Linked DNA regions of Homo sapiens: all the other regions are reported to be linked to region 3. The links are microRNA targets in miRTarBase. Many come from high-throughput screens and were not tested one by one. Region 3 holds a microRNA gene; each other region holds the end of a gene's coding sequence. Distances are between the middles of the regions.
What was found. The annotated mature microRNA hsa-miR-548f-5p reads UGCAAAAGUAAUCACAGUUUUU and lies in region 3 at 1,496-1,517, shown strand. An mRNA with a match to its seed (bases 2 to 7 or 8) in the 3' UTR can be bound and repressed. Matches are read on the target gene's strand: a 7mer-m8 pairs with bases 2 to 8, a 7mer-A1 pairs with bases 2 to 7 and ends in A, and an 8mer does both.

Region 1: miRTarBase lists ZMYND11 as a target of hsa-miR-548f-5p. Seed matches in the 3' UTR shown: 7mer-A1 at 818-824 and 7mer-A1 at 854-860.
Region 2: miRTarBase lists WNT7B as a target of hsa-miR-548f-5p. Seed matches in the 3' UTR shown: 7mer-A1 at 2,569-2,575.
Region 4: the mRNA of AGFG1 is a reported target of hsa-miR-548f-5p. Seed matches in the 3' UTR shown: 7mer-A1 at 2,265-2,271.

Annotation. Positions count from the first base shown.
Region 1 is chr10:251,750-254,960 of GRCh38, forward strand. It overlaps ZMYND11 (zinc finger MYND-type containing 11), which reads left to right. Exons shown (of 15, transcript NM_001370100.5): 15 at 599-2,888. The coding sequence ends at 721. Among named protein-coding and RNA genes, the nearest start is that of ZMYND11, 120 kb to the left of the region's middle.
Region 2 is chr22:45,920,236-45,923,235 of GRCh38, forward strand. WNT7B (Wnt family member 7B) reads right to left here. Exons shown (of 4, transcript NM_058238.3): 4 at 131-3,000. The coding sequence ends at 2,621. Among named protein-coding and RNA genes, the nearest start is that of WNT7B, 55 kb to the right of the region's middle.
Region 3 is chr10:54,606,197-54,609,442 of GRCh38, reverse strand. MIR548F1 (microRNA 548f-1) reads left to right here and starts at 1,486; the gene lies at 1,486-1,569. All of the region lies in intron 2 of PCDH15 (protocadherin related 15), which reads left to right. It overlaps LOC105378311 (a long non-coding RNA gene), which reads right to left. Exons shown (of 6, transcript NR_134503.1): 3 at 2,458-3,246.
Region 4 is chr2:227,553,977-227,557,222 of GRCh38, forward strand. It overlaps AGFG1 (ArfGAP with FG repeats 1), which reads left to right. Exons shown (of 13, transcript NM_004504.5): 13 at 460-3,246. The coding sequence ends at 519. Among named protein-coding and RNA genes, the nearest start is that of SCYGR2, 43 kb to the right of the region's middle.

The DNA.
Region 1 (3,211 bases), 54 Mb from region 3:
GAGGTGTACATGGTGGGATGTTTAACAGCATCCCAGGCCTCTGTCTGCCAGTAGTACCTTCTGCCCTTAAGTTGTGACAGTCAAAAATATCTCCAGACATTGCCAAATAAGATGAAGACTGAGACTTGGCCACTAGATTTGAAGTTGTAAGTGACCCTGCTAGCAGCATATTAGTGGCATGGTATGAGTAAAGACTGCAGCGTATGTTAACGACGAGAGAAGAATTTGAAATAGGGAGTTTAGGCAAGTCTTTCAAGGAGCTTGTGGGGAGCAGAGAAATGCAAGTGGTAGCTGGAAAGGGATGTGAAGTCAAGAGCATTTTAAGAAAAGAAACGGGAATGACTCTCACAGAGATGGAAAAAACGGGAGGTGTCAGGTACCACCTGACAGCAGCTTGAGTTTGCTGACAACCAGGCATGAGCTGCAGTCATCCCCAGGGCTCCCTTTCCATCTGCTGTGCATAAAACGTATTCAGATTCCACAAAAGGTTGAGCCAGAAAGATCTTTTAAAAGCACCACCTCAAGAGTTTGCCATTTTAACCAGTCGCTTACACATCCACACCCAAGTCTAAAGACTGCCCCGATTTCTTACCTGCAGTGCTACAACTGTGAGGAGGAGGCCATGTACCACTGCTGCTGGAACACATCCTACTGCTCCATCAAGTGCCAGCAGGAGCACTGGCACGCGGAGCACAAGCGCACCTGCCGCCGGAAAAGATGAAGCTGGCCCTTCCCGGAGTCACCCCGATGATTACTCTTTTCAGACACAGCGGTTTTTGTTTCCAAGAAGCCAAAATTGTTTAGAATTTGCTTCCCATTTTGCACCAGCCTTTAAACACTTTTCGTGAAGAAATTTTGCACAGTAGTTTAAATCTTTTGTTAATGCTCCTCCGAAGTTTTTCAGGGGGTAAAAGTAACATCAGTGGAGGGTATTATTTTAAATAAATTTTAATTGAGAATTTGTTGCATTTTCAGCAAATTTTAAAACATTTTTAGGTTTTACAGAGATTTTAACCTTTAAACAACAGATCTTTAAAAAACAGGTGAATACAAGTGAGTTTAACAAAGAAACATTTAGAATAGATCTGAATGTAAGAACTACAGAACTGTTTCAGAAATAAAACATACTACCTTGATGTGACATTTTTTTCTTAACCTTGTTGAGCTGGTTTTGTTCAGCTTAATTTACTGTTCAAAGGCATTATCTGTTGGTCACACCAGTGGGTATATGATTGAATTTAGGGAACAGGGTTGACACAGCAGGGCTAGTCCTGCATATTTTTTCTTAAATATTTCCCAATTGTGTTTTTCATTATTTCTTTTCAATATATAACTTTTATAACAAATTATTAGCTTTGATCTTGTAGTTTAAAATTGCAGGGAACTGGGGTAATCTTTTACTGAGCTGGATCTTAGAGAAAATGAATATTTAAATTTTAAAGTTTGCACATTTCATCTTTGTCCTAACATGAGTGCTTGTAACAAAATAAACAACAAAAACAAAGCCAAAAACTACCTTTATCCATATGTGAAATTATAGATGAGGCATACGAATTTGTTTAATGCTTCCCTTCCCTTCCCACATATCATCTCACTGCCTATTATCTGGTGTCACCTCATGTATCGTAAGTTAATACTAAAAGAAGAGAAAGCACTTAAGTTTCACAGAAGCCGTTATGTTTGTAGTAATGGGTCATTGCCTACTAATGAACTCCATCACTGTACACAGAATGAAGAATAATGCATGTTAATTTTCTTGTATTAAAGATGCCGTGATTTGTAAAAAGTCTGTATTTTGCGGAATGTCTGGATTAAGAAGCATTACCAATAGGAATGGATCGATAGTTGAATAATGATTTTTTATACATAGATATATAAAATACAGCCAGGAAAACTTAAATTACTTTTCTTTTAAAATATCTCACAATTTATGTGGTATTTTTAAAGACTGATCTTAGACCAAGTCAAATTCCCATTTATCATTTAGTTATTTTTTGAGGTTAGAGAATAATTTGTACATATTTATTTAGACCTTTGATATTTATTAAAGCAATTACTCACAATGGAAGTGAAAGAATCAGGAGAAAAGCCTTTTAAAAAGTATTCTCCAGGTTTGTCAGGGTCACTCTAAAGATAAAAATGTAACTAAGTCTTCTGTGAAATATCATCCATCTAATCTTGATGCTGTTGCAGATGGTGGTGACACAAGTTAATTGACAAACTACTGCCAAATGGTGCACAATATTTTGTAAAAAGTACCCAGTAGCCCCATTTCATACAATGTACCTAAATTATGCAGTAACTTGGCATCATCGTTCCCTCCTTGTTGCTGTGTAATTAGTCAGTGTTGCCACAGTGTGTGGCGCTGATGGAGATGTCAGAACCGAGAACACTTAACCTTCTTTGATTGTTTTTCAAGTTTTAAGACTTCGATCCACCCCTATGAGAGCAAGTAATTGTGGAAATATTTTTGGTGTAAAATCATTCCAGAGTATGTAATATTTAACTGATAGCTGCATGAAAGTGAGATTCGTGTTACTTTGGCTTTTCTGTCTCTGTTGACACGGTTGCACATTTCCAAGTTACTACAGCGTGAAAACTGTGTGTTTAAAAAAAAACAAAATTAAAAAAAGAGATTGTGGCCTGGTTTTGTAAAAGTTTTAGGTAAAATTACAATTGATTGTTTTAGGAATCATTATTAAAAATTTTCTGCAAATCATAAAGCTATATCGAGGTGTTGAGCTTAGCCACTATGCACATTGTAATTATTCATTGTGGCTGTCCAGTTCTATGATGCATTCTGGCATTTTGTAAGCTGCTCTGACTAGCAATATATAGATTCATTTAATGTGTTAACATTGGTTAATAAATGTATTTAAAAAAAACTAGCTTTAGTAATTTGTTTATTTAGTGTAGTCCCCTATACCCAACCAAATACTACCGTCGCTAAATGTTGATCACATACTGTGGGTCACTCTTTAGTGACTGCTTAACTTTATATAAAATCAGTGTGTTAAACATCATTTGTTCACTTAAACGTATAAATTGAATTTACTTTCACCAGATCTCAAAAAGACCATACATGATATAATAAGGAGAGGATGATTATTATATCAGCTGCATATCAATTATTGCAAATCAGCCTGAAAAACAGATACACAACTCAGAATGGAATAGATTCTTAATTGGAGGCCAGCTGAGGCTAACCCTC
Region 2 (3,000 bases), not on the chromosome of region 3:
GCAGGAGGAAGCCAGACAGCTGGGGGCACATGAAGGCCTCGGGGGCTCGTCCTGGGTGGGCAGAGCATGTGTCCCCACCGGTGGGGCCGCAGCTGCAGGTACATCGCATGGGGATTCCACACACACTCACTTTTCCGATTCCAGCTTTTATTGGGCCGAGCACTCCCCTCCAGGGGAGGCTGCCGTCAGAAGGGTGGGGACGCAGCACCTTGGTCGCCATCACCCCCATCTGGGCCACCCTGACCCCCGTCTCACCCAGGCAAAGGGCCTGTTGCTGGCAGACTTTGGGGTGGGCAGGGGCTCAGTGGGGTGCCCGGCAGCCAAGGGACAGTGCGAGTGTCTCGGTGGCATCAGGGGCCCCAAGGGTCTGTTGAAGCAGGAGGAGCCTGGTTCGGGAGATGGGGGATGGGATGGGGGGTGGGTATGGGGAATAGGGATGAGGGATGGGATGGGGGATGGGGTCAGGGATGGGATGGGGGATGGGATGAGGGATGAGATGAGGGATGGGATGGGATGGGGGATGAGGGATGGGGGCCGCAGCCATCCCCCTCTCCGGTACCCAGTGTAGGTCACAATAATTTAAAGACACTATAGACATTTCGACGCTATATAACAACATAAGTTAACCAGGTTCCTTGCAGAGGCTGCCGGGCCTATGGACTCAGGTGTGTTCTGGGACTTGGGGAAGGTAAGGGGATGGGGCCAGGCTGAGGGTGGGGCATTCACGGTGGCCCGGAGACTCAGAGCGTCCAGGCATGGTTAGAGGCACATGGGCTGGACCACAGGGCCAGAGCCCAGGAGGGACCCACTTGCCCCAGGCTGAGCCCAGGCCCTTGGCTTGTCGGCTGCTCAAGAACACATTCCTACGGGCTTCCAAGAGAACACACCCTAAATGGGGGCCAGGCCGTGGGCAGTGGGGGTGCACCAGGAGCCAGCTGCAGACCATCCTCTCTGGCCTCGGACAAGTTCCTCCCTCTGTCACTCATGCTCCTCAGAGACAGGGGTGGGAGCATCCAGAAAGGACATGTCCAGCTCTGGATCCAGATTTTCTCAGCACTGGGGTCAGGGTAAAAGGACCAGGACAGGGCTAGGCGAAGCCTCAAAGGCACCGAGGGGAGTGCAGGCCCCAATGAGGCTGTCAGGGGGTGGAGGGAGCAGCCAAGTGCCTCAAGGCATGGGAGCTACCTACTGCCACCCCGGGCATCCTGATGTGTTCTCCCAGGTCCAGAGCCCCAGGCTGGGCAGGAGAAAGGTGGAAGCCTCCAGTCACAGCTGCAGGGTCTCTGGTAGGTCCTTGTGCCACTCTGGGCCTCAGAGTTCCCATCTGTCAAGTGGGACAAACATCCCTGACCACTCACCACCTGCCTGACCCCCGCGGCAGCACTGTCCCAGGGGTCAGGCTGGCTCCAGGGGGAAGGGGGTCTCTGTAAACTGGAGGTGCCAGGCCGGGAGGGTGACAGGATGAGGGAGGGAACGAAGGACTCCTGGAACCTGACGTGGGTGATATTTTGATTTGCTTGATATTATTTTCTTTTCTTTTTTTGAGACAGAGTCGTGCTCTGTCACCCAAGTTGGAATACAGTGGCACAATCTTGGCTCATTGCAACCTCCACCTCCCGGGTTCAAGCAAGTGTCCTGTCTCAGCCTCCTGAGTAGCTGGGATTACAGGTGCACGCCACCACGCCCAGCTAATTTTTGTATTTTTAGTAGAGACAGGGTTTCACCACGTTGGCCAGGCTGGTCTCGAACTCCTGACCTCAGGTGATCCACCTGCCTCGGTCTCCCAAAGTGCTGGGATTACAGGTGTGAGCCACCGCGCCCAGCCATTGATAGGATTTTCAAAAGAAGGAAAGACGGCATGGAGGAGCCTGTCCATGGCTCTCCTCCAAGGCCCGGTCAGGGCTGTGTGGTCTGAAGAGCCCCTGCCCAGCTCACTTCTAGGACCTGCAGGCACCGCGTGGTCCCCATCAACCCCAGGCTGCCTCAGCTCTGCAGGGGCAGAGGGCCGGCCAGGTGGGGCCGGGAAAGGAAACAGAGGGTGTCTAGGGGATGGGCTGACACAGAGTACGGAGTTAGGACTGGCTATGTGTTAGTGCCGAGAATCCTCTTCTGATACTAAGAAAACATAAATAATTTGTGTCAACATCTGTCCCCACCGCCCCAGGGCCCAGCGGCAGACCCAGCCTGGGAACTGGTCTGGAGAGGCCAGCCGGCGTAGCTTTTCTGTGTCCATGCCGCCAGGTGGGGCTGGGGACGCTCAGTCTCCTCATCACTTTGCTCTCTGGGATACAGGTGTGTCCTGGACGTTCATTTTCCCAGAGAGAAGAAAGAGAACTTGCCGGGCCCCGTCGGGGAGCACCAAGACCCCTGGCCTTGCTCTCTGGGTGGGTCACGGGTGCTGTTCTGCCGCAGGAGGTGATGGGAGGAGGTGGCAGGAAGGAGCCCCAGGGAGGCGGGCAGAGGGCGTGGGCCCCGGCCGGTGCCCTCCTGCACCTGGAGCTCCCCGCTTCTGCACCCGTCTATGTCTGCTGCTGGCAGCACCAAGGCAGGGAAGGTGAGGAGTGGATGTGCAAAATGCCGCCGGGTTCCAGGGTGCCCGCGGCCGCCTCCGGGCCTGGCCTCACTTGCAGGTGAAGACCTCGGTGCGCTCGCTGCAGGTGTTGCACTTGACGAAGCAGCACCAGTGGAATTTGCAGTTGCACTGCCACACCTTGGTGTACTGGTGGGTGTTGTAGCCTCGGCCGCAGCACATGGTGTCACAGCCGTCCGCGCCGGGCGACGTGCGGTTGCAGAGACGGCCCTGCGTGCCCACGCTGCCCGTGGCCGCGTCCTCCTCGCAGTAGTTGGGCGACTTCTCAATGTACACCAGGTCTGTCTCCATGGGCTTCTGATAGCTGCGCAGCTGTTTGATGCGCAGGAAGGTGGGCTGCCGCAGACGGCTGGCCCGCACCACCTCCACCTGCACGGCCGCGTTGTACTTCTCCTTCAGCAGGTGGCCCA
Region 3 (3,246 bases):
ATAGCTGCATTTTTTATGAAGCATAGGTAATGGAGCAGTATACTACAAATGCCTTTTCCTGAGACATTGGTGTGGAATATCTTTAACACAGAATTTTTTCCTAAGAAACATTCCTTTACTTGTGTGCAAGTTTATGAGCCTACATGTTCCTCTCCTGAGTAATTTATGTAGAATACATAACATTTGAAATGTATTTATGATATTTGACTATTATAATGAATATCTGCCTTCAGGTCAGACATTACCAAAAATTTTCATTTTTAAAAAATGAGCAAAAACAGTAGTGCTCATTTATATTTTCCAAATGTCTTCATAATTGAGTATACTGACAATTCAATAGTCAAATTTTAATAATTGTTGCAGTCAACGTTTTGTTTCACATTGAATAATTTTTTATTGTACCTTTCAGGGAAACATTATTCGTGCGCTTGTAGTGCGTGATTATCATTCATGTTGCTTCTAATAATATTTTGCTCACATACATCTTATAGATTGAGTACAGAGTCTAAAAATTTGGGTATGATTATACTACTTCAGAATATATTTTCATTTCCCAAATGTTATTGACTCTTAAAATTTCTAGCTAGGGACTGATTTTTTTTTCTCATTTCTTCTTCTTCTTCTTTTTTTAATGGAGAATAATATAATAGCTGTGGAAAACAAATGACTGTATTTTACTAAACTACACTAAACAAGCCAAGACACCCTTAATTTAATTCAATGTGAAAGTCAGAATTGTAAGAGAGCATAAATCTTGACTTCTTGACGAATATTACCAGACTAAGTCACATCATTTTGTTTGATGACTTTCTCCTTTTTGTATTTTTTATTTTGTTAAGAGAGGGTCTCTGTCACCCAGGCTGGAGTGCAGTGGCATGATCACAGATCACTGCAGCCTAGATATCCTGGGTTCAATCTATCCGCCCACCTCAGCCTCCAGAGTAGCTGAAACTATAGGCGTGTGTCACCACACCCAGATAATTATTATTATTATTATCTGTAGTGATGAGGTTTCACTAAACTGCCCAGGCGGGTCTCAAACTCCCGAGTTGAAGCGTTTCTCCCACATCAGCCTCTCTAAGTGGCTGGACTATAGGTGTACCCCACCATGTCCGCTATTTTTTCTTTTTTTTTTTTGGTAGAGATAAGTTTTTGTCATGTTGCCCATGCTCGTCCTAAACTCCTGGGCTCAAGCAATCCAGCCACCTCGGCCTCCCACAGTGCTGGGATTACAGTTGTGAGCCACCACACCTGGCCTCTCCTTTTATTGAGCGAAGTGTTTGCATACAAATCCCCTGGGATTTTTTTGCTCGGAAATCCCCTCAGGGCTATGCCTAGTCCTCTTTTTGGCTCTATCACTTTTACTGTATTTGTCAAAGAAAAGTATTTCAAGTTAAAATATTATTTTGAAAAATTCCTTATGTGTGCAAGTCTTCTCACAATAACCAAAATGATGTAGGCAAAGCCTTTCCAAAGTGCGGAAGTATTAGGTTGGTGCAAAAGTAATCACAGTTTTTGACATTACTTTCAAAGACAAAAACTGTAATTACTTTTGGACCAACCTAATAGCCTGATTAGCAGTGTCTTGCTCACAGTAGGCCTCATGGCATCATATCTCTTCCTTACCATCATTCTTCATATATCTATAAAAATTCTTTGTAGTAGACAGTAAAAGCCTTAAAGTTACCATTGATTTATTGAGCAATCTAATATTTTTTCTAATAAATATATTAAGATAATATAAATTTTAAAATCTCCATTACCCTCTAGTCTATTATATTTTCTTACTGATTGAATCGTTATGCTAAGGCAATTCTAATCGTAAGGACTATGGGTTGATTTCTACTCTTAACCTGAAACAAGAATAAATTTGTCATGCAGACAAATTTGCATAATGTTCAAAACATAAACATATGCCAGGAATTGAGAGGTCTCTGAGGGCAGGGACCTGGATTTCCTGTATGCCTTTCCTTCTCTTCTCTCTAGTCTACTGCCATTCTTTAATATTTTTCCATATTTAATAATGCCACATGTTATCATATATTGGGTAGTGGGCAGGGATATGGAGAAAATCATATTTTTGCCCCAGAATCCTCTACCAAGAATATTATTAAATTTAGAAGATTTTATATCACATTATTGTTTACCACATTTATTGCACATAAACTCAATTTTAAATCTTATAATTATCTTTTGACTAGTTCAGATATATTTAATTATTGTATTTTCTTTATGTAAAAAGTATTGTTATTAAATGTAAACATATAAAACAACTCATTTTCACAAATAATTTTTAGCATTTTAATTTTTTAAAATTGCAATAAATATTAAGTATAAGTTACTTTGACAACTAAAAGACCTTTATTACTTATGTTAATAAATCTTTCTAGCCACCTGAAATTAGTATATCTTTTCAAAAAATTCACTATATTTTTATGTGTATTTGCAGCCACTCACCATTTAGCCTTTGTTTTATGACTCTAGGGAATTCTTCATTAAAAGCTTTAGAATAGTCAGAATGTGAAACAGAAGACAGATCTATATAAGGCTCTTCCTCTCTCATCCTTCTGTTAGGAATTCTGCCACACTTTTGGTTTCTGATGGGTTTGATGTGACTTGGCCTTAAGTTTGGGCCATCCTTTAAACAATTAATCTGTGTTCTCTGCCACATGCTTCCAAACAAGTGTAGCTTGACTTCTTATCTTTTATGATATCTGAAAACCCTTCAGCCTACAGAGACACATACACTTAGTCTTTTGGTTGCTGATTCCAGTTGAGGACAATACTAATTTTTCTAGCCTGCATCCGAACTGGCATCTTTCCACAATCTTGATCCTGACCCATTGCTTCCATGTCCAAGACAGCACAAAATTCTAAAATTTTTATTTTGTTTTATTTAGTTTCCTTCTCTCTTTCTGATAGCAAGAAGGACACAAACTAGAGAAGCATCTTTGGGCAGTATGTGAAGCCTGCTCAAAGGAGTTGTAATCATTCTCATATATCTCAAAACTGAAGATAATTCTTGTCCTCTATGAAGGGTTTCTAGTAGCTGCTTTGAGAGTTCTTAGTTTCCTTTCTTTGTATTCTCATCCATGGCAGACATTCTTTGGCAGCAATTCTCACCTCTCAGGAAATAGAATCATCACTACTGTGGCCAGCTACTACAGACAAACTAAGGTACATTGAGAAAAAATGCCCAAACAAATGGGTTCTTCCCATATCTCCTCCACTTCACCTCCTCATTCA
Region 4 (3,246 bases), not on the chromosome of region 3:
TTAGTTGCAAATCAAAGCATTGATAGTTTTTAAAAAATTAGTTGCAAATCAAAGCATTGACAGTAGATCAGCTATTTTATAATATGAAACTTATCTGCTTTCTTGTCAAAATAACACTTTATGAGAGGCCCTAGGAATTAGTGAACATAAAAGAGAGGTCTTAAGAGTCAGAAGTTTTGTTTGAATCACACGTGCTTTTCTAAGACCATTCTAAGATTCTTCTTAGAATCTATTACAAGAACTGTTTGAAGTACTGGATATGAAAGACGTAGCACAGTTCATGACACATAGTAGTTTGATATAGCTTATTGCCAATAACAAATATTATTGCCAATAATTTAAAAAATAATTCTTAACCAAAAAGTCTAATTAAAAAAATTAAATTCAGTTTAATGTTTTTATATTTTGTACATGCACTACTTTTGTCTCTTTATTTATTTGTCTTATGTTTTCCTTTAGACTGGTGCACCAACAGGACAATTTCCAACAGGAAGCTCATCAACCAATCCTTTCTTATAGCCTTATATAGACAATTTACTGGAACGAACTTTTATGTGGTCACATTACATCTCTCCACCTCTTGCACTGTTGTCTTGTTTCACTGATCTTAGCTTTAAACACAAGAGAAGTCTTTAAAAAGCCTGCATTGTGTATTAAACACCAGGTAATATGTGCAAAACCGAGGGCTCCAGTAACACCTTCTAACCTGTGAATTGGCAGAAAAGGGTAGCGGTATCATGTATATTAAAATTGGCTAATATTAAGTTATTGCAGATACCACATTCATTATGCTGCAGTACTGTACATATTTTTCTTAGAAATTAGCTATTTGTGCATATCAGTATTTGTAACTTTAACACATTGTTATGTGAGAAATGTTACTGGGGAAATAGATCAGCCACTTTTAAGGTGCTGTCATATATCTTGGAATGAATGACCTAAAATCATTTTAACCATTGCTACTGGAAAGTAACAGAGTCAAAATTGGAAGGTTTTATTCATTCTTGAATTTTTCCTTTCTAAAGAGCTCTTCTATTTATACATGCCTAAATTCTTTTAAAATGTAGAGGGATACCTGTCTGCATAATAAAGCTGATCATGTTTTGCTACAGTTTGCAGGTGAAAAAAAATAAATATTATAAAATATGCTATTGTTTTTGTGTTCTTGCTGCAATGCCTTTACCAAAGTGGCCTTAAATATGAGTAGTGAATTGAGAACATCTTGAATTCTTAAAAGACTTCTTAGTGACTTTTTATAAAAAGGCCATGTAGAAAATTTATTAAAACTACTATGACTGCTACATTCAGGAATATGCCAGTGGTAAAGCATTTAAATGTAGCTTGTCAGATTTACCATAATCCTACTAATTTCTTTGCAGCTTATTAATTTTGTGAAATTTGTATATATGAAGAATTTGCATGTATGTGTATTTACAAATTTTTCTAAGTATCTTGAATTCTCAGACTGCAAAAGGCCTATTTTAACTATTGATTTTTTTTAAAAAAAATTGTCTTTGAATGTATTGGAAGTAGACATGCATTAACTGTGACATTATTGCACCTCAGTTTTTTTCTTTCTTTTTTTGGGCAAACTGATATTATCTATAGGATATTTGTTTATGTTTGTTTTTTGGGGGAAAGAAACTGGAACTCAGTGTTACCTTAAAGTTACGGAATACTTTGTTTTAAAGGAAAAGATAATAAGTTTAGTTATATCTTTTTGTTAATATTCAAATGAACTTGTTTAAGTATCTATGTACAGTAATGCCTCATTCATCTAGAGGTAATCTGGCAGTCTTGTGAAAACCGAACACAACTCAGAAACTTGGAATCGTTTTTTTTAAAAATGCCTCTGAGCAACCCATATAAGTCACAAAGTCTGTGTGTTAGAGCTTATGCATTTGTTTTTATGAGAGATTTTAATAAATTTAATTATTTGCTTGTCCAGACTATAGCATATTAGCTGTTTAGAAGGGATGGCTTGAAAGGAAGGAGACTGAAAAACACTCTGAGAGCATACACTGTCCAAGGCCATTAGTGTAAGGACCGCTACCCAGCCTAGAGGACATCACTATACTACATCATCTGATGATTATTCTTTATTATGCCTCTAGGTAATTAAGTAAAGGTGAAATTGCATACACAGATATGTAGTACATATTTTAAAAGTTTTATCTTAAATTGATTAAAACTTTTTAAAAAGCTTTGGTATTAAAAGAGGTAAACATCAGTTTCCTCAAACATTTTATTCATGTTGAATGCCTTTTTGCAATGATGACTGAGTTGTTATCATAGTATTTTAAAACCTGTATAGTGTTTTAGACTTGTTAAAACATTGCTGTCTAGTGTACATCTAGCTAAAAGTGTGGTTTATCTAAACCGTTTTAATAAGCAAGATGACTGGGAAATCTCTGCCCCTTTTCTGAGCAGTATGCCTCTTCTTTTAGAATTAAATGAATGCTGCACAGGTCCAGATGTGTGTTGATGTAGACTTGAAATGTCTCCACATTTTGGAGGACTTCCTCAGCCCTTTTCATTGAGGGAAAATATATTTGAATTTCTGTTTTAGATTGTATCGGGTCCCAGTTGATTCATGTGTACAAAGTTATGCTACCTAATTACAGACCATTACCCAAATATCCTACCAGGCTTTCCATCTGAATAGTAAATTAAACAGTTGTTATCAAAATGATTTTAAAGACTATTTCTTTTTCTGGGTAACTATTGAAGTTTGTAATTAAATGGGGGCTCTTACTGACTTTAAATTAGCGCTTATAAAATAAAAATGTTTAGTTCAAGAAGAGACCCAAGCTGGGTATGGTGGTGTGAGAGCCTGTGAGTCCTAGCTACCTGGAGGTGAGGTGGGAACATCACTTGAGCCCAGGAGTTGGAGGCTGCAGTGCGCTACGATCACACCACTGCACACCAGCCTGGGGATAGAGTGAGATCCCATCTCTAAAAAATGAAAAAAAGAAGAGAGGTAGCTTTAAAGTGGTTTTTCTCATGATATTCACTGTTTATTATTAAAGAAAATCAGCTTTCGTTAGACTTTTACATTTAGATTTATTCTAGTTTTATATAGACCATCAAAATTATGTTGAGTACTAAAAAGGAGAAAAAATCCTGGAAGGTAACAAGGCTGAAGACCTTCAAATTTCCTGGCTTACTGGTTTAGTCACATCATTTTTCCTGTTCAGGTATCTGCAGATATCCCTGTTCAGGAAAGATCTTTTTTCAGGATGGCAA